3 separate regions of the Homo sapiens genome follow, and all the other regions are linked to region 1. The links come from fine-mapping of genetic effects on gene expression. A gene starts in region 1. Each other region holds a variant in brackets. All regions are shown on one strand. Distances are from middle to middle.

Region 1 (2,701 bases):
ACGCCAAGCCCAAGTTTCAACCACCCCACCATCACCTTCAGTGTCACCTCTGCAGACTTGGGAGGGACATATCTAGGGTGGACCAAGCGCTGGCCAGGACTCACCTGGGCTGAAGAGCTGAGCCCAGAGGAGCTGGTGGTCTTGAAGCAGCTCCGCCGCTGGCATGTCCAAGAGCTCCAGCATTTCCTTCCGTGCCAAGTCCTGCAGCGCCTTGAGCTCCTTGGCTGCTTTGCTTTTGAGCACCTGGGGGTTAATGGGGCCAGAGACGTGCACCACCCACAGCACCGTCTCATCCAGCTGCGTCTTGGGAGCCACTTGGAGGCGGTTCACCAGCTTCTTGGCGGCCACCACCACCAGGTGCACCAACCCAGTGGGCGTAGGCGGGGACCGGCCTGAGTAGAGGAGGAACTGATGGTCTCCGACCTTCTCCAGGGTACTGGTGAAGGCCTTGGGGGCTGGGCCGGCAGTGGGCCCCACAGTCTGCAGCGCGGCCACGCGCTCCGTGGGGTTGTTGAGCTGGATGCGCTGCAGGTAGACGTGGGGTCGGCCCCTGTGCGCCAGAAAGTCCTCTTGCAGCAGCACGCAGTCGCGGCCGGACCCCGCGGCAAGGCCAGAGACGGAGGCGGGCCCGGGGCCGGCGGCCACGGGGCCAGGACCTGGGGACCCCAGCTGCAGGCAACGCACGCGGCGCAGAAGCCCCTCCCGCAGCAGCAGCACCGCCTCTCCAGCTTCAGCCAGCGCGCTCAGCGGGCGCAGCTGCACGAAGGGCACAAAGTCCGGCGCCACGGCGGGCTCCCGCTCCCCGGGAGTCACCCACAGCCGATTGGCAGCCACGTCCAGGGCCAGGAAGCCGTTGGCCACCAGGGCCGGCACTCCAGGACCCAGCGGTACCACCTCACCGCGCTCCCGCAGGCCGCGCCAGGCGCGGGTGGCCGCCTCCAGGCAGGCAGACGGCTCGGCGGCGCCCGGCTCACCGCGGGACCAGGGCAGCAGGTGCAGGCCGCCCGCCGCCCGCCGCGCGCCGGACCCCCCAAACCACAGAAGCAGCAGCAGGAGGCCAAGCAGGCAGAGGAGGCGGCGGGCCCAGCTGCTCGACAGCAGTCCCGGCAGCCCCTTGAGCCGCTGCTGCAGCCACATCGGGCCGCCAGGCGCGGGCAAGGGTGCGAGGGCGGCCGCCGGGCCCGCCGCCCAGCCCACCGGCCCGGCCGCCCGCGCCTCACTGCCCGGCCCGGACCGCGGCGCCCACCCCGGCCCCCGCCGCAACCGCCGCAGCAGCCGCCACCCCTGCTTCCTCCTTCTTCTCGGTGGCCTCCAGCCGTCAAACGACGCCGGCGGTCAAGCGTCGCCGTGTCTTTTACGACAGATGGAAAACGGGAGGGCGGAGGGAGGAGAGAGAGCAGGCCGGAGAGAAGGGGGCGGAGCCACGGCGAGGGCGGGACAAAAGCTGCCGGGGGCGGGACCACTCGTTCCCAGGCCGGAAGAGTGAAGTCCAGTGGAGTTAAGTGCAGGGGTCTGGGGAGGACTGGAAGCATCCAATTCACTCGTGAAAAAAACATCGAGCCAGCCAAACCGAACACGTGTTGGGCCCCTTTGCTACTGATGGATTCAACAGCCCCAAAATTTAAAAACATACACACACACACACACAACAACTTTGTTTCTGTAAAAATGACCATCCTCTCGCCGCGCGCGGTGGCTCACGCCTGTAATCCCAGCACTTTGGGAGGCCAAGGCGGGCGGATCACGAGGTCAGCAGTTTGAGACCAGCCTGACCAACATGGTGAAACCCCATCTCTACTAAAAATACAAAAACTAGCCGGGCGTGGTGGCGCATGCCTGTAATCCCTGCTCCTCAGGAGGCTGAGGTAGGAGAACTGCTTGAACCCGTGAGGCGGAGGTTGCAGGCTTGCAGTGAGCCGAGATCACGCCACTGCACTCCAGCCTGGGCGACAGAGTGAGACTCTGTCTCAAAAAAAAAAAAAAAAAAAAAGACTATCCTCACTGCAAAAAAACACTTGGAACAATACGAAAAAGTGGAGGAAAAAAAAAGGAGAGAGAAGAAGAGGAAGAAAGAAGAAGAAAGGAAAAGGGAGGAGGAGGGGAAGGGGAACCACCAGAGGCCAGGAGTGGTGGCTCACGTCTGTAATTCCAGCACTTTAGGAGGCTGAGATGGGCAAATCACTTGAGGTCAGGAGTTCGAAACCAGCCTGACCAACATGGTGAAAACCTGTCTCTACTAAAAATACAAAAATTAGGCTGGGCACGGTGGCTCACGCCTGTAATCCCAGCATTTTGGGAGGCCGAGGCCGCCAGATCACGAGATCAGGAGATCGAGACCATCCTGGCTAACACGGTGAAACCCTGTCTCTACTAAAAATATAAAAAATTAGCCAGGCGTGGTGGCAGGCGCCTGTAGTCCCAGCTACTCGGGAGGCTGAGGCAGGAGAATGGCGTGAACCCGGGAGGCGGTGCTTGCAGTGAGCCAAGATCGCGCCACTGCACTCCAGCCTGGGTGACAGAGGGAGACTCTGTCTCAAAAAAAAAAAAATAAATAAATAAAAATAAAAAAATAAAAATGCAAAAATTAGCTGGGCGTGGTGGTGGGCGCCTGTAATCCCAGCTACTTGAGAGACTGAGGCACGAGAATCGCTTGAACCAGGGAGGCAGAGGTTGCAGTGAGCCGAGATCGCGCCACTGCACT
Region 2 (2,786 bases), 59 kb after region 1:
GGCTGGGTGTTCATGGAGAGAGTCTTGTGATCTTGCTGGTAGAGTTTGTTGTTATTGTTTTATAACATGTAAAGCTGCCTTTAGCTCTTACTGTAGTGAAGCATGTTGCTTGCGTCATCAACTTTAGTCTTCTCACAGTTTAGATGGTATTGTGGTATTAGGATATTGGTTTTCATCCACGGATCCAGGCTCATAACTCCTATCCACAGCCCTTGTTATGGTTTTTTGATATAATGTTAGATGTGTTAGGCCTCAGGGGCAGGCCTCTGACCTTCTGCTCTCCTTCCACCCTAATCTTTCCCCACCTGATTGTGGGCCTTAAAACCCTCCCCTGAGAGGGGTGGACCCTGTATCCTGGGGGAAGGAATGCTGATGTCATGAAGCTTCCATAAAAATCCAAGAGGACAGAGTTCAGGGAGCTTGTGGATAGCTGAACACACGGAGGTTCCTAGAGAGAGGCCTGCTCAGGGAGGGCACAGAAACTACACGCCTCTTCCCCCATACCTCGCCCTAAGCGTCTCCTTATCTGTATCCTTTGCGATATCCCTCATAATAACCTGGTAAACGTAAGTAAGTGTTTCCCTGGGCTAGGTAGGCTGCTCCATCAAATTAATTGAACTCAAAGAGGGGGTCATGGGAACCCCAGCCTGAAGCCAGTCGGTGAGAAATTCTGGAGGCCCAGACTTGCAACTGGTATGTTTGAGGGGTGGTGGTGGAGAGGCGGGGCAGTCCTGGGGACTGAGCCCTCAACCTGTGGGATCTGACACTCTCTCCAGGTAGACAGCATGGGAACTGAATGAGAGGATACCCAGCTGCTGTCCGCTGGTTGGTGTGTGGGGAAGAAACCCCCTCACATTTGGTCACAGAAGTCTCTTGTGTTGATGATTATGGTGTGAGAGTAGAGAAAAAAGATAATTTGAGACAGTTTCTCTCTCCAGTAGGTGTCTTGTTTGTTGTACACATGAAGAAACCAAGGTTCTGTGATGAAATAACTTGCTTAAGTTTAAGCAGCCCAGAAATAATGTAGTCACAATTTGAACCCAGCTCTGCCTGATTACAAAACCTGTCATAGGTAGTGCTATATCATGCCCCATCCTTGATCCCTTTTTTTTTTTTTTTTTTTTTTTTTTTAAAGAGAGAGACTTCGCTCTGTCACCCAGGCTGGAGTACAGTGGCGAGATCTTGGCTCACTGCAAATTCTACCTCCCAGGTTCAAGTGATTCTCCTGCCTTGGCCTCTGGAGTAGCTGGGACTACAGGCATGCGCCACCACACCCAGCTAATTTTTTGTATTTTTCATAGAGACGGGGTTTCACCATGTTGGCTAGACTGGTCTTGAACTCCTGACCTCAGGTGAGCTGCCTGCCTCGGCCTCCCAAAGTGCTGGGATTACAGGCATGAGCCACCGTGCCTGACCCCTGATCCCTTTTCTATTCCTTTTGGATGGCTTTCCTCTTGTGCCTGCCACATCCCCTCTTTCTCGAACAGTCTGATCTGCCAGGCCATGGCAAGCCTCATTTCAGCGCACTCTCCTTTGCTGCTTTGGAAGAGTGAGAGTAGCATTTTCTTTGCAGTTTCCTTTCTCAGAGCTGTACTGTCTTTAAGCCCTGGACATATGGCTTCCATGCTGAGAAAACATCTCTCATAGCTGTGGCGTCATGCTGAGGAGGAATGTAGAAAC[G/A]GAAGTGGGGTCACTTCCTTCCCTTGTCTCCAGAGGAATCATTAACATTGCACAAGAACTTGTTGGTTTGGGCACACATGTGGGTCCCTATCCCGCTTTGGGTCGGTCTGTCTTCTGCCCACTCTTTGGGATGGTTAGTTACTAAAAGTCCGTTTTGGCATTTGGTCTTCATGTACCTCTTCCGGGTGTTCTTTCTGCTTTTCAGGACCTTGTGCAACATACTTTGGCCCCATTTGGAAGTTTTTCACGTGTGCTTGCTGGGGAGCAACACCTCATTTCCAATCTAGAGAGAGTGAGCTTACTGCTGGGTGGAGAACTGAGCAGTAAGATTAGGGTGGCTGGGGAGGCAGTGACAGACCCAGGCACAGTCAGCTGTGCACACACCCCCTCATCCAGGAGGGCCTTTGCCCTTTGACTTCCTGGGATTGGTGGGCTCTGCTCAAGAAGTAGCTTTCGCCGTGGTGGGAACTCTGAGGGACCTGGCAGGGGTCCACTTTTGGGGTCGGAATTCCCAGTCTTACCCTGGGCACTCCTTCTGGTGTGTACGCCTCTTTTTGATCTTTTTTTTTTTTTTTTTGAGATGGAGTCTTGCTCTATTGCTCAGGCTGGAGTGCAATGGCGCGATCTTAGCTCACTGCAACTTCCAGCTCCCAGGTTCAAGCAATTCTCGTGCCTCAGCCTCCCGAGTAGCTGGGATTACAGGTGCCTGCCACCATGCCTGGCTAATTTTTGTATTTTTAGCAGAGAAGGGGTTTCACCATGTTGGCCAGGCTGGTCTCAAGTGATCCACCCGCCTGGGCCTCCCAAAGTGCAGGGATTATAGGTGTGAGCCACCATGCCCAGCCTCTTTTGACCTTTGACCAAAGACCTCTAGGACTTTGGAGTCAAGTCTCATGACCTCTAAAATGTTGTTATATGAAAAGATAAGCTACAAAGATATGTAGGATTGAGTGAGAGCAAGAGAGACAGTCACACAAAAATAGACTGTGATAATATGGCTGGGTACGGTGGCTCACGCCTGTATTCCCAGCACTTCGGGAGGCCGAAGCAGATGGATCACTTGAGGTCAGGAGTTTGAGACCAGCCTGGCCAACATGGTGAAGCCC
Region 3 (2,786 bases), 67 kb after region 1:
CGGGCGGATCACGAGGTCAGGAGATCGAGACCATCCCGGCTAAAACGGTGAAACCCTGTCTCTACTAAAAATACAAAAAATTAGCCGGGCGTAGTGGCGGGCGCCTGTAGTCCCAGCTACTTGGGAGGCTGAGGCAGGAGAATGGCGTGAACCCGGGAGGCGGAGCTTGCAGTGAGCCCAGATCCCGCCACTGCACTCCAGCCTGGGCGACAGAGCGAGACTCCGTCTCAAAAAAAAAAAAAAAAAAAAAAAAAAAAAGAAGTGACATAGAGTGGTTAAGAGCCTGGACTCCAGAGCCAGGCTGCCTAATTCAAATCATAGCTCTGCCTTTTACTAACTCCGGAGCCATGTTAATAAAGAGGACCAAAGGAGAGAATGAATTTGAAAAGTGAAAGGAACAGTGCCTGGCATGTGGTAAGAACTTCGTAAATATTTGTTAAGAAAAAATAAACAAGGAAGGCAGTTAACATTTAAGTATTCATCTTCTACCAGCCGCCATTCACAGCATTTGTGTTTCAATTCGTTTGATCCTCACGATGTTCTCATGAAGTAGATAATGTAGTTATCTCCGTTTTGTGCTTAAGGAAACTAAGACCCAGAAAGGTTCTTTTGCTTGAGGCCACAGAGCTAGAAAGTGGTAAGAACCAGCTTCAGAACCAGGCAGTGTTGCTCCTGAGCCATCTTCTTAACCACCACACCGTGGGGCCACCATAGAGGATCTGGAGCTCAGCCTGTCGGCTGCAGGGTGCCAGAGGTGGACTCGTTTAGGGTAAGCAGGGCCGGCGCTCTGGCCCTTCCAGACTTGGGACTGTGGAACTCCTCTGACCACGTGGTGACCCATTTTCAATCCCCACCTCCAGACACGTACAGGAATGCAGAACTGGACCCCGTTACCACAGAAGAACAGGTTCTGGACGTCAAAGGTTACCTATCCAAAGTGAGAGGCATCAGTGAGGTGCTGGCTCGGAGGCACATGAAAGTGGCTTTTTTTGGCCGGTAAGTCCTTGAGGCACCCACCCTTTCTTTCTTCCTGGCTAGGAGGGAGGGAGGCACTTTGTGCAAGGTCACAGAACGTTCCAGGCAGGGACATGCTTCAGAATTCATTGCTTTCCTCTTAATTTATATTTTATTTATTTATTTGATTTTTGAGACAGGGTTCTCTGTCACCCAGGCTGGAAGCTCATTACAGCCTCGACCTCCCTGGGCTCAGGTGATCCTCCCACCTGAGCCTCCTGAGCAGCTGGGACTGCAGGTGCATGCCATCAAGCCTGACTTTTTTTTTTTTATTTTCTAATTAAGGTTAAAGGCATATAATATAAAATTTACCACCTTAACCATTTTAAGCATACAATTCACTAGTAGGTATATTTGCAACCAGTCTCAAGAGCTTTTTCATCTTGCAGAACTGAAGCTTGTATTATAGCCATTAAACAATAACTCCCTGTCCCACATGTCCCTTGCCCTGGCCACCACCATTCTACTTTCTGTCCCTATGAATTTGACTATTCTAGA[T/C]GTCTCACGTAAGTGGAATCATACAGTATTTGTTTTTTTTTCTCCATTCATAAAACTTTTATTCCACTTACATGAATTTAATACACGTGTTCTTAACAATTGTGCTTGTATTGTTCATGAAAATTTCGTAAGACATTAAACAAAGCTAGCCATCATCTCAAGTTATTTCCCTGTTAACTATTTTTACAGTGCATGCATGTTAGGCAAGCATCAAAAAAAAATCACAAAAGCAAAGAATCTAAAAATATGCCGGGCATGGTGGCTCACACCTGTAATCCCAGCACTTTGGGAGGCCGAGGCAGGTGGATCACGAGGTCAGGAGATCGAGACCATCCTGTCTAACACAGTGAAACCCCATCTCTACTAAAAATACAAAAAATTAGCCGGGTGAGGTGGCGGGCGCCTGTAGTCCCAGCTACTTGGGAGGCTAGGGCAGGAGAATGGTGTGAACCCCAGGGGGCGGAGCCTGCAGTGAGCCGAGATCGGGCCACTGCACTCCAGCCTGGGCGACAGTGAGACTCCATCTCAAAAAAAAAAAAAAAAATCTAAAAATAAGTTAAATACGTGTTTTTTTTGTTTTGTTTTACTGCTAGCTTGATATACATGAAGTATTCATTTTTCCTGCATCTTTACTTTTACATTTGTTCTTAGGTTGCCTGAAACATTTTAAATACAAATAAAATGAGTGTAGCAAAAATAATGAAAGCTAACAGCAGATAACTTTACAAATAATGGAGTGTGAACCATTTCTGCCCTTATCCAGATTGAAATGGGTCACAACTTTGTTTAAAGGAACACTTCCACAGCTGTAGTCAAAGGTGTGCACATTGAGATTGAGTATTCCACAGACACACATGGTTTAACATGTGATAACCATGGGGTATCTGTTTCTACCACAGCCTTGTAAGTGCTCCAAACCTTAAAGTACCCACATTTACTATACCTGTGACTGGAACCAATGATCCTTTTTATTCCCCACCAGGACAAACCAATATGTAGGCAGTTTTCTTTGCTTTGACATGGAAGCAGTTTTAACACTGGCCCTTGTGAAGCCACAATGTACCTAAAGTACTAGGCCAAACATTTATAACTTGTATAATGACCAGGCACGGTGGCTCACGCCTGTAATCCCAGCACTTTGGGAGGCCAAGGCAGGCAGATCACAAGGTCAGGAGATTGAGACCATCCTGGCTAACACGGTGAAACCCCATCTCTACTAAAAATACAAAAAAAATTAGCTGGGTGTGGTGGCGGGCGCCTGTAGTCCCAGCTAC

The links.
Region 2: its variant is fine-mapped to the expression of KIAA2013 in whole blood (TOPMed, PIP above 0.99). The same link has a PIP of 0.9 or more in monocytes.
Region 3: its variant is fine-mapped to the expression of KIAA2013 in whole blood (INTERVAL, PIP above 0.99).

What each region holds. Positions count from the first base shown.
Region 1 is chr1:11,925,101-11,927,801 of GRCh38, forward strand. KIAA2013 reads right to left here and starts at 1,327. Exons shown (of 3, transcript NM_138346.3): 1 at 105-1,327. The coding sequence starts at 1,137. RefSeq lists enhancers at 271-933, 934-1,597, 1,252-1,546 and a silencer at 1,182-1,251.
Region 2 is chr1:11,984,352-11,987,137 of GRCh38, forward strand. All of the region lies in intron 2 of MFN2 (mitofusin 2), which reads left to right. Among named protein-coding and RNA genes, the nearest start is that of MFN2, 5.3 kb to the left of the region's middle. The variant G/A (reference allele first, on the strand shown) is at 1,681.
Region 3 is chr1:11,991,695-11,994,480 of GRCh38, forward strand. It overlaps MFN2 (mitofusin 2), which reads left to right. Exons shown (of 19, transcript NM_014874.4): 4 at 861-996. Among named protein-coding and RNA genes, the nearest start is that of MFN2, 13 kb to the left of the region's middle. The variant T/C (reference allele first, on the strand shown) is at 1,513.